2 linked regions of the Homo sapiens genome follow. The protein of the gene in region 2 interacts with the protein of the main gene of each other region in a pairwise test. Each region holds a gene or a part of one and is shown on either strand. Other genes may lie near its edges.

What was found.
Region 1: the proteins of NDUFV3 (region 2) and PHYHIP interact in a two-hybrid assay, tested with the Homo sapiens proteins (one large-scale study listed by BioGRID and IntAct).

Annotation. Positions count from the first base shown.
Region 1 is NC_000008.11:22,221,827-22,225,637, forward strand, and holds part of PHYHIP (phytanoyl-CoA hydroxylase-interacting protein), read right to left. Parts: intron 3,391-3,811; exon of another isoform or gene 2,616-3,390; intron 2,518-2,615; coding exon 2,400-2,517; intron 62-2,399; coding exon 1-61. UniProt on the Homo sapiens protein: Its interaction with PHYH suggests a role in the development of the central system.
Region 2 is NC_000021.9:42,906,615-42,910,425, reverse strand, and holds part of NDUFV3 (NADH dehydrogenase [ubiquinone] flavoprotein 3, mitochondrial isoform a precursor), read right to left. Parts: intron 3,587-3,811; coding exon of another isoform or gene 3,524-3,586; intron 1,563-3,523; coding exon 1,405-1,562; 3' UTR 1-1,404. UniProt on the Homo sapiens protein: Accessory subunit of the mitochondrial membrane respiratory chain NADH dehydrogenase (Complex I), that is believed not to be involved in catalysis. Complex I functions in the transfer of electrons from NADH to the respiratory chain.

The sequences.
Region 1 (3,811 bases), on a different chromosome or scaffold from region 2:
GGAGCCGTGGCTGCCACTGTTGTCCTTCAGGTAAGGCTGCAGCATGTTCCCGCAGTGGGTCCTGCCCACCCCAGGGAGACACACCAAAGGGAAGAGAAGATGTGGCTGGTGAGCCGGGCTGAGGCTTGGCTGCTGCGTGTGGTCGAGGAGGGAGGAAGCCAGCCCAGCTCCCAGCCCTCCCCCAGCCGCCTCCACTAGTCGCAAATAGAACATTCCAGAATGCAAGAGCAGGGAGGGCCCTGGAGAGGGATTCAACCAGCCCACTCCTTCTCAGAGAAGAGATATGAAGCTGTCACTCCCCAGCTTGAAACCCTTTGATGGGGTGTGTGTGAAAAACACGGCGGCTCATGATCTGATCTCTGTGGTCTCCTTGCCACTCCCCACCTCCTGCCACCCCATCCACTTACCCACCCCCTGCACACACAGTCTCCTGCCTCCGTGACCCCTATGCAGGACTCTTCCCTCTGCTGCACTGACTGCCCTCTCCACCTTCCTCCGTCTGGCTTGGCAAACTTCTAATTAGCCTTCAAGCTTCAGTCAAGCGTCTGCTCCCCTCTAAAACCTCCCAGGAACAGCAGACACCTGCACTTGACAAATTTTTGGCTTCCTACTATGTGCAGGACACCCAATCTTCTCACTATGTTGCCCAGGCTGGACTTGAACTCCTGGCCTCAAGTGATCCTCCTGCTTCAGCCTCCCAAAGTGCTAGGATTGCAGGTGTGAGCCACTTCACCTGGCCAGGACACTGAACTGTGCTCAACAATTACACGTACTTTTTACATGAAATCTTTCCATACTGTCTCTCTGACTGGATTCTGAGGTTCTCAAAAGAGTGAACTGTGCCTTTATCTTTACATCCTGGCACCAAGTAAGGTGCCTGGCACCCATGAGTGCTCTCTATCTCTCCCACTCTCGCTGATAAAGGAGCCCAAACTGGGCCACTGACTTGCTTTCCAGGCTGGAGTGCAGTGGTGCAATCACAGCTCACTGCAAGCTCGAACTCCTGGGCTCAAGCAATCCACACCCGGCTAATTCTTTAAATTTTTTGCAGAGGCTGGGGTCTCACTATGTTGCTCAGGCTAGTCTTGAACTCTTGGGGTCAAGAGATCCCATCTCGGCCTCCCAACGTGGTAGGATTACAGGCTTGAGCCACCAAGCAGGCCTTGCTTCTTTAATACAAACCCCAAAGACTCCCAAGGTCCTCACTGCCCTGAGGTTAAAACTGCCCTGACTGTAAGGATAAAGACAGACAGAGGCCGGGCGTGGTGGCTCATGCCTGTAATCCCAGGACCTTGGGAGGCCGAGGTGGGCGGATCACCTGAGGTCAGGAGTTTGAGACCAGCCTGGCCAACATGGTGAAACCCCACTTCATTAAAAATACAAAAATTAGCCGGGCATGGTGGCGCATACCTGTGGTCCCAGCTACTCAAGAGGCTGAGGCAGGAGAATCATTTTAACCCAGAAGGCAGAGGTTGTAGTGAGCAGAGATCGCGCCCCTGCACTCCAGCCTGGGTGACAGAGAAGACGCCATCTCAAAAAAAAAAAAAAAAAAAAAGGCAGAGCAGCTGCTTGCCCTGGCTGAGCCTCAGAAGGATGCGGCCTTGGAGCACTTGCCAGCAGGCCCGGGGATGGTGGGTACTCCTGGTCCTGCCTCACATTGCCTGGTCCTGGCTGTCCTCAGTAACAAGTGACTCCCTGGCTCGAATGAACAAGTGCTTCCCTCTGGGCCTCAGGCTCCTCTTCTGTAGGCTGAGGGTGTTGGATCAGATCACCAATTTTCAAACACTTTTGGACTGCAGCAACTCTCTTTTTATCCCCAAAAGAAATTATACGTGGAAGGGTCACAGGCAAATAAAATTGAGGCTACTCTGACTGGAGGTCAGGTGTGGGGCCCACCAAGCCTCAACCTCTGGTCCCCCCAACCCCATGGCAGCATTCTAAGGGGTTCACTGACATGTCTCCCTGGAGGGAGCACCCAGTTTGAAAACCGACGAGCTGGGTGCTTCCTCGAACCCTTTGTGATCAGAACACTCATTTTGTGCACTCCCTGCCACCTTCCCTTTGGCCCCAGGGCCTGAATCGGAGAGACCTGTGGTGGTAGACCCCTGTGAAAGGAACTGTCCCAGAGTGGGAGCAAACCCAGACCTCATTCTCCCAGGCTCATTAGTACAACACTCTTGCAGAAGGCCCTGTCCCCAGAGCCCTTGATCTTCCCTGAGCCCAATCCCCAAAGTAGCAGTCTCTTCAGAGCCAGCCTGGTGACGTCAGGACATGTCAACCCTAGAGGAGGGACTGGCAGCCACGAGGGTGGGGGTGACCTCAGACAGCCAGGACAGGAGCAGGAAGGGCTGGGAGGGAGGAGAGGCCCGGCGGGTCCAGCCGGGAGCCCGCGCCCATACCTGGCATGCTGGAAGTACTCCTTGTGATGGTTGCGGTAGAAGACGGAGAAGCGGAGCATGCGGCCTGCGATCTGCTCAGCTTTCTCCTGAAGCTGAGCCAGGTGCTCCTTGGCATAATCTGCAAGATCCCAGATGCGGTAGGTGAGCCGAGGGCCAGCTGAGGAGCACAAACACCTCCTGTCCCCACCCCACCCCACACTGTGTGTGCCGGCCAACCTCTGTCCGCCAGAGCAGCAGGGGAGACTAGACAGTCGCAGAACCTTAAACTCAGATGGGAACAGGCCAGCTGGCCTCTGCTGGAAACACAGAGCGCTGCATACTGTCTGTCGTCATCACCTCTGCAACCACATTGCCAGAGGCTCCGGGCTCTCCGGGTCAGAAAAAGGCAGAGGGCTGCCCAGTTATCCTGCCAGGGTCCTCAGGGGCTGTGATCCCAGGCCATCCTCATGTGAAAAGAGGACCCCTGGGAAAAAGGAAGACTTGAGACGGGAGGGCTTGAGGTCCTTTTGGGAAAGTCTCTCAAATACAGTAGATAGGAGGCTGCCCACACCACCCCCATGGAAGCCAGCTGTAATTACAGGTGACGGCTCGTGAGGGTCTAGGGAGAACTGAGCCCAGGCAATGTTTAGGCAGTCCTGGGTCTGGAGCAATGGCTCTCAGCTTGAGCATCTCAGGAGAAACAGGGAAGGCTGGAAACAGGATAGCAACATTGAACCCTGGGGCCCCAGCAAGGCTGCTGCTGGCACATACAGCTCCTTGGTACAAATTAGAAGATGCCCTTCCCTCTTTGTGGCTGCATCCCTGGCCAGGGTGCTTGGTTTGGAGAGAGGAGTGTGGACTGGATTGCAGCCAGATCTCCAATTTGAATTAAATGCCCACTGCACATGGAGGTCTCAGGGGTAAACCAAGAAGCTTTCCCCACCAGGAGCAAGAGGCCTCCAGAGAGTGGGGTTCTGCAGCAGAGCTAAGAAAAAACACCACTCAACCAGCAGCAGTGGTTCACGCCTGTGATCCCAGCACTTTGGGATCACTTGAGCCCAGGAGTTTGAGACTAGCCTGACCAACATGGAAAAACTCCATCTCTACAAAAAAATATCAAAAATTAGCCAGGAATGGTGGCATGTGCCTGTAGTTCCAGCTACTCAGGAGGCCAGGAAGCTGAGGAGGGAGGATGGCTTGGGCTCGTGGGGAGGAGGTTGCTGAGGCTGCAGTGAGCCATGATCATGCCACTGCATTCCAACCTGGGCAACAGAGCAAGACCCTGTCTCAAAAAATAAAAATGAAAAAGGCCAGGGATGGTGGCTTATGCCTGTAATCGCAGCACTTTGGGAGGCCAAGGCAGGCAGATCACCTGAGGTCAGGAGTTCAAGATCAGCCTGGCCAACATGGTGAAACCCCATCTCTACTAAAAA
Region 2 (3,811 bases):
GCAAACAAAACAATTCCCTTCCTTTTCTGATGGTAAAATACTGCAATACAATTTGTTTGCAATGCAGTAGTTAAAATTAGTAACATTCCTGTTCCTTTTTTTTGATTGAGTTTCACTCCTGTTGCCCAGGCTGGAGTACAATGGCACGATCTTGCTCACTGCAACCTCCGCCTCCCAGGTTCAAATGATTCTCCTGCCTCAGCTTCCTGAGTAGCTGGGATTACAGGTACCCACTAGCATGCCTGGCTGATTTTTGTATTTTTAGTAGAGATGGGGTTTCACTATGTTGGCCAGGCCGGTCTCAACTCCTGACCTCAGGTGCTCCACCCGCCTCGCCCTCCCAAAGCGCTGGGATTACAGGAATTATCCACTGCACCTGGCCAAAACTCCTGTTTCTAATGATCAAAAACCAGGGCTGTAGGATTAGAAGTCACTATTACTGGCTGGGTGCAGTGGCTCACGCCTATAATGCCAGCATTTTGGGAGGCTGAGGCAGGTAGATCATGAGGTCAGGAGTTTAAGACCAGCCTGGCCAAGATGGTGAAACCCCATCTCTACTAAAAATACAAAAAAAATTAGCCAGGCATGGTGGCGTGAGCCTGTAGTACCAGCTACTCAAGAGGCTAAGTAAGGCAGGAGAATCACTTGAACCCAGGAGGCGGAGGTTGCAGTGAGTTTAGATTGTGCCGCTGGACTCCAGCCTGGGAAACAGAGACTCCATCTCAAAAAAAATAAAAGAAGTCACTATTACATTATTGATACTCAGCTGATAATCAGTTTAATGCGAAATTGACTAGGCTGAGCACAGTAGAATCACACCGCTCTAAAGCACTTAAAATTCTCTAATTATATGGATTTGCCCAGTGATTCATAACCTTAGAGTTTAAGAAAAATTCCTTGCACATAGTAGATATTCCAAAATATATGTTGGATAATCAGTGTTACTGTTGCTAATTCACCACTCACTGTAAAAAGTGTGAAAGTGGCCGGGCGCAGTGGCTCACGCCTGTAATCCCAGCACTTTGGGAGGCGGAGGTGGGCAGACCATCTGAGGTCAGGAGTTCGAGACCAGCCTGGCCAACATGGTGAAACCCTGTCTCTACTAAAAATACAAAAGTTAGCTGGACCTGGTGGTGAGTACCTGTAATCCCACCTACTTGGGAGGCTGAGGTGGGAGAATCACTTGAACCCAGGAGGCGGAAGTTGCAGTGAGCCGAGAATGTGCCACTGCACTCCAGCCTGGGTGACAGAGTGAGACCCTGTCTCAAAAAAAAAAAAAAAAAAAAAAAGGTAAAAGTGAAACCGATTATGCACAGCGGGCCTTGTGACTCTTGAGTGGATTTTATTTTTGCACTCCAGGATGCAGTGAAGACGGTGGAAGGTTCATCTTCACACCGAGGGCCCTCAGTGTCGAGGTGACTCCCGGCCTGAGGAGGGCTGAGGCATCCTGAATTTTGAGAGTTCGAGGTTGAGGTCTAAGAAGGTGTACGTGCTGTAGTCATGATGCTGCAGGTTCTTGTAGGTAGTGTTGTCAAACGGCTCAGCAGGCACTGGGGCTGGCTCTGCGGAGGAAACACGATGCCCATGAGACCAACACAAGGACAGCTCTTTATGAATGACTCGGCTCACACACAGGCGCTTACCTACCAAGCATTCTTCATCATCCCTATCTGTGAACAGCTCTTTATGAATGACTTGGCTCACATACAGGCGCTTACCTACCAAGCATTCTTCATCAACCCTATCTGTGAACAGCTCTTTATGAATGACTCGGCTCACACACAGGTGCTTACCTACCAAGCATTCTTCATCAACCCTATCTGTGAACAGCTCTTTATGAATGACTCGGCTCACACACAGGCGCTTACCTACCAAGCATTCTTCATCAACCTATCTGTGAACAGTTCTTTATGAATGACTCGGCTCACACACAGGTGCTTACCTACCAAGCGTTCTTCATCAACCCTATCTGTGAGGAACAAATTGTCTAATTAAAAAAGAAAAGCCTACAAAAGCCACAGTAAAGAAAAAGAAAGATATTACTTGGAAGTTTATTCTAAAACATACAGCCTTCCAATTTAAGAAATGGAATAGTTATTACAATGCGTTTTTTTTTTTGAGATGGAGTCTCACTCTGTTGTCTAGGCTGGAGTGCAGCGGTGCGATCTCAGCTCACTGCAAACCTCCACCTCCCAGCTTCAAGTGATTCTCCTGCCTCAGTCTCCCAAGTAGCTGGGATTACAGGCGTCTGCCACCACGCCTGGCTAATTTTTGTATTTTTAGTAGAGACGGGGTTTCACCATGTTGGCCAGGGTGGTTTCGATTTCCTGAGCTCAAGTGATCTGCCCGCCTCGACCTCCCAAAGTGCTGGGATTACAGGCGTGAGCCACCATGCCAGGCCATACAACGTGTCTTAACATCTTAGTTTGTATACTTCTAGGCTTCTCAAAAGTTTGAAAATGCCTAGAACAATTATAGCAGGACTTTCAGGTAACTTAGAGATGCATGATAAAATCTACCTCTATTAGAAATCTGGGCTGGGCATGGTGGCTTACGCCCATAATCCCAGCACTTTGGGAGGCCGAGGTGGGAGGATTGCTTGAGCTCAGGAGTTCTAGATCATTCTGGGCAAAATAGTGAGACTCTGTCTCTACAAAGAATAAAAAATTAGCAGGGGCCAGTAGCAGTGGCTCACACCTGTAATCCTAGCACTTTGAGAGGCTGAGGCGGGCAGATTGCTTGAGGCCAGGAGTTTGAGAGCAGCCTGGCCAACAAGGTGAAACCCTGTCTCCACTAAAGTTACAAAAGTTAGCAGGTGTGGTGGCATACTCCTGTAATCCCAGCTATGTCAGGAGGCTGAGGCACAAGAATTGCTTGAACCCAGGAGGCAGAGATTGCAATGACCTGAGACTGCATCACTGCACTCCAGCCTGGTGACAAAGTTAGACTCTGTCTCAAAAAAAAAAAAAAAAAAAAATTAGTAGGGCATGGTGGCACACCTGTAGTCTCCAGCTACTCAGGAGGCTGAGGTGGGAGGATTGCTTGAGACTGGGAGGTGGAGGTTGCAGTGAGCTGAGATCACATCACTGCACTCCAGCCTGTGGGACAGAGCACGTCTGTCAAATAAAAAATTTTTTTTGAAAAGCTTAAACTAAAGGAGCCTTCTGAATCTCTGATACAAGAAAATTAGATAAATTCTAATAACAACAACACAGCATTTAAACATTTGGTAATTCGAAACTACAAGTAGGGGTTGAGGCAAAAGAAGTACTGGTCTCCTGCAGCAGGACACACAATATAACATAATGGCAAAATCAAAACCAGCACGGGAACACAGGCTGATATTTGGGTTAAGATTTGTACTGACTCAATTTCTGTAAATCAGGTCATTAGGTCTGTCTTAACTTCCATTCATGCTCCACAAAAAAATAACCTAAATACATTTATTTTCTCACTATTTCAATTAATATCAAAAGCTCTGTTTTTCATTTTTAAGTTACGTTAAGCAAAAACGATGTCTCATTTAAAGAGCTGGCATCCTTCCAATCTCCACAAGGTGAGTATCTTCGGTGTGGTGTAGGGACACCTTCAAAGCAGAACGTACTATTTTAGTTACTATAGGGAGGGTGATAACTGACCAAGACGTGGGTTACAAAACTCTGATCTAAAACCACTCTACCTGGAAGGCCAGTACTGGGGCACGGACTGCCTAGTGAGACCGCGGCCCCATACAGACACGGCTCTGCAAGGTGGGCTCTGCGCATGCGCACAGAAGATAGTTAAGAAACAACACACCCGTGAAATATTAGAA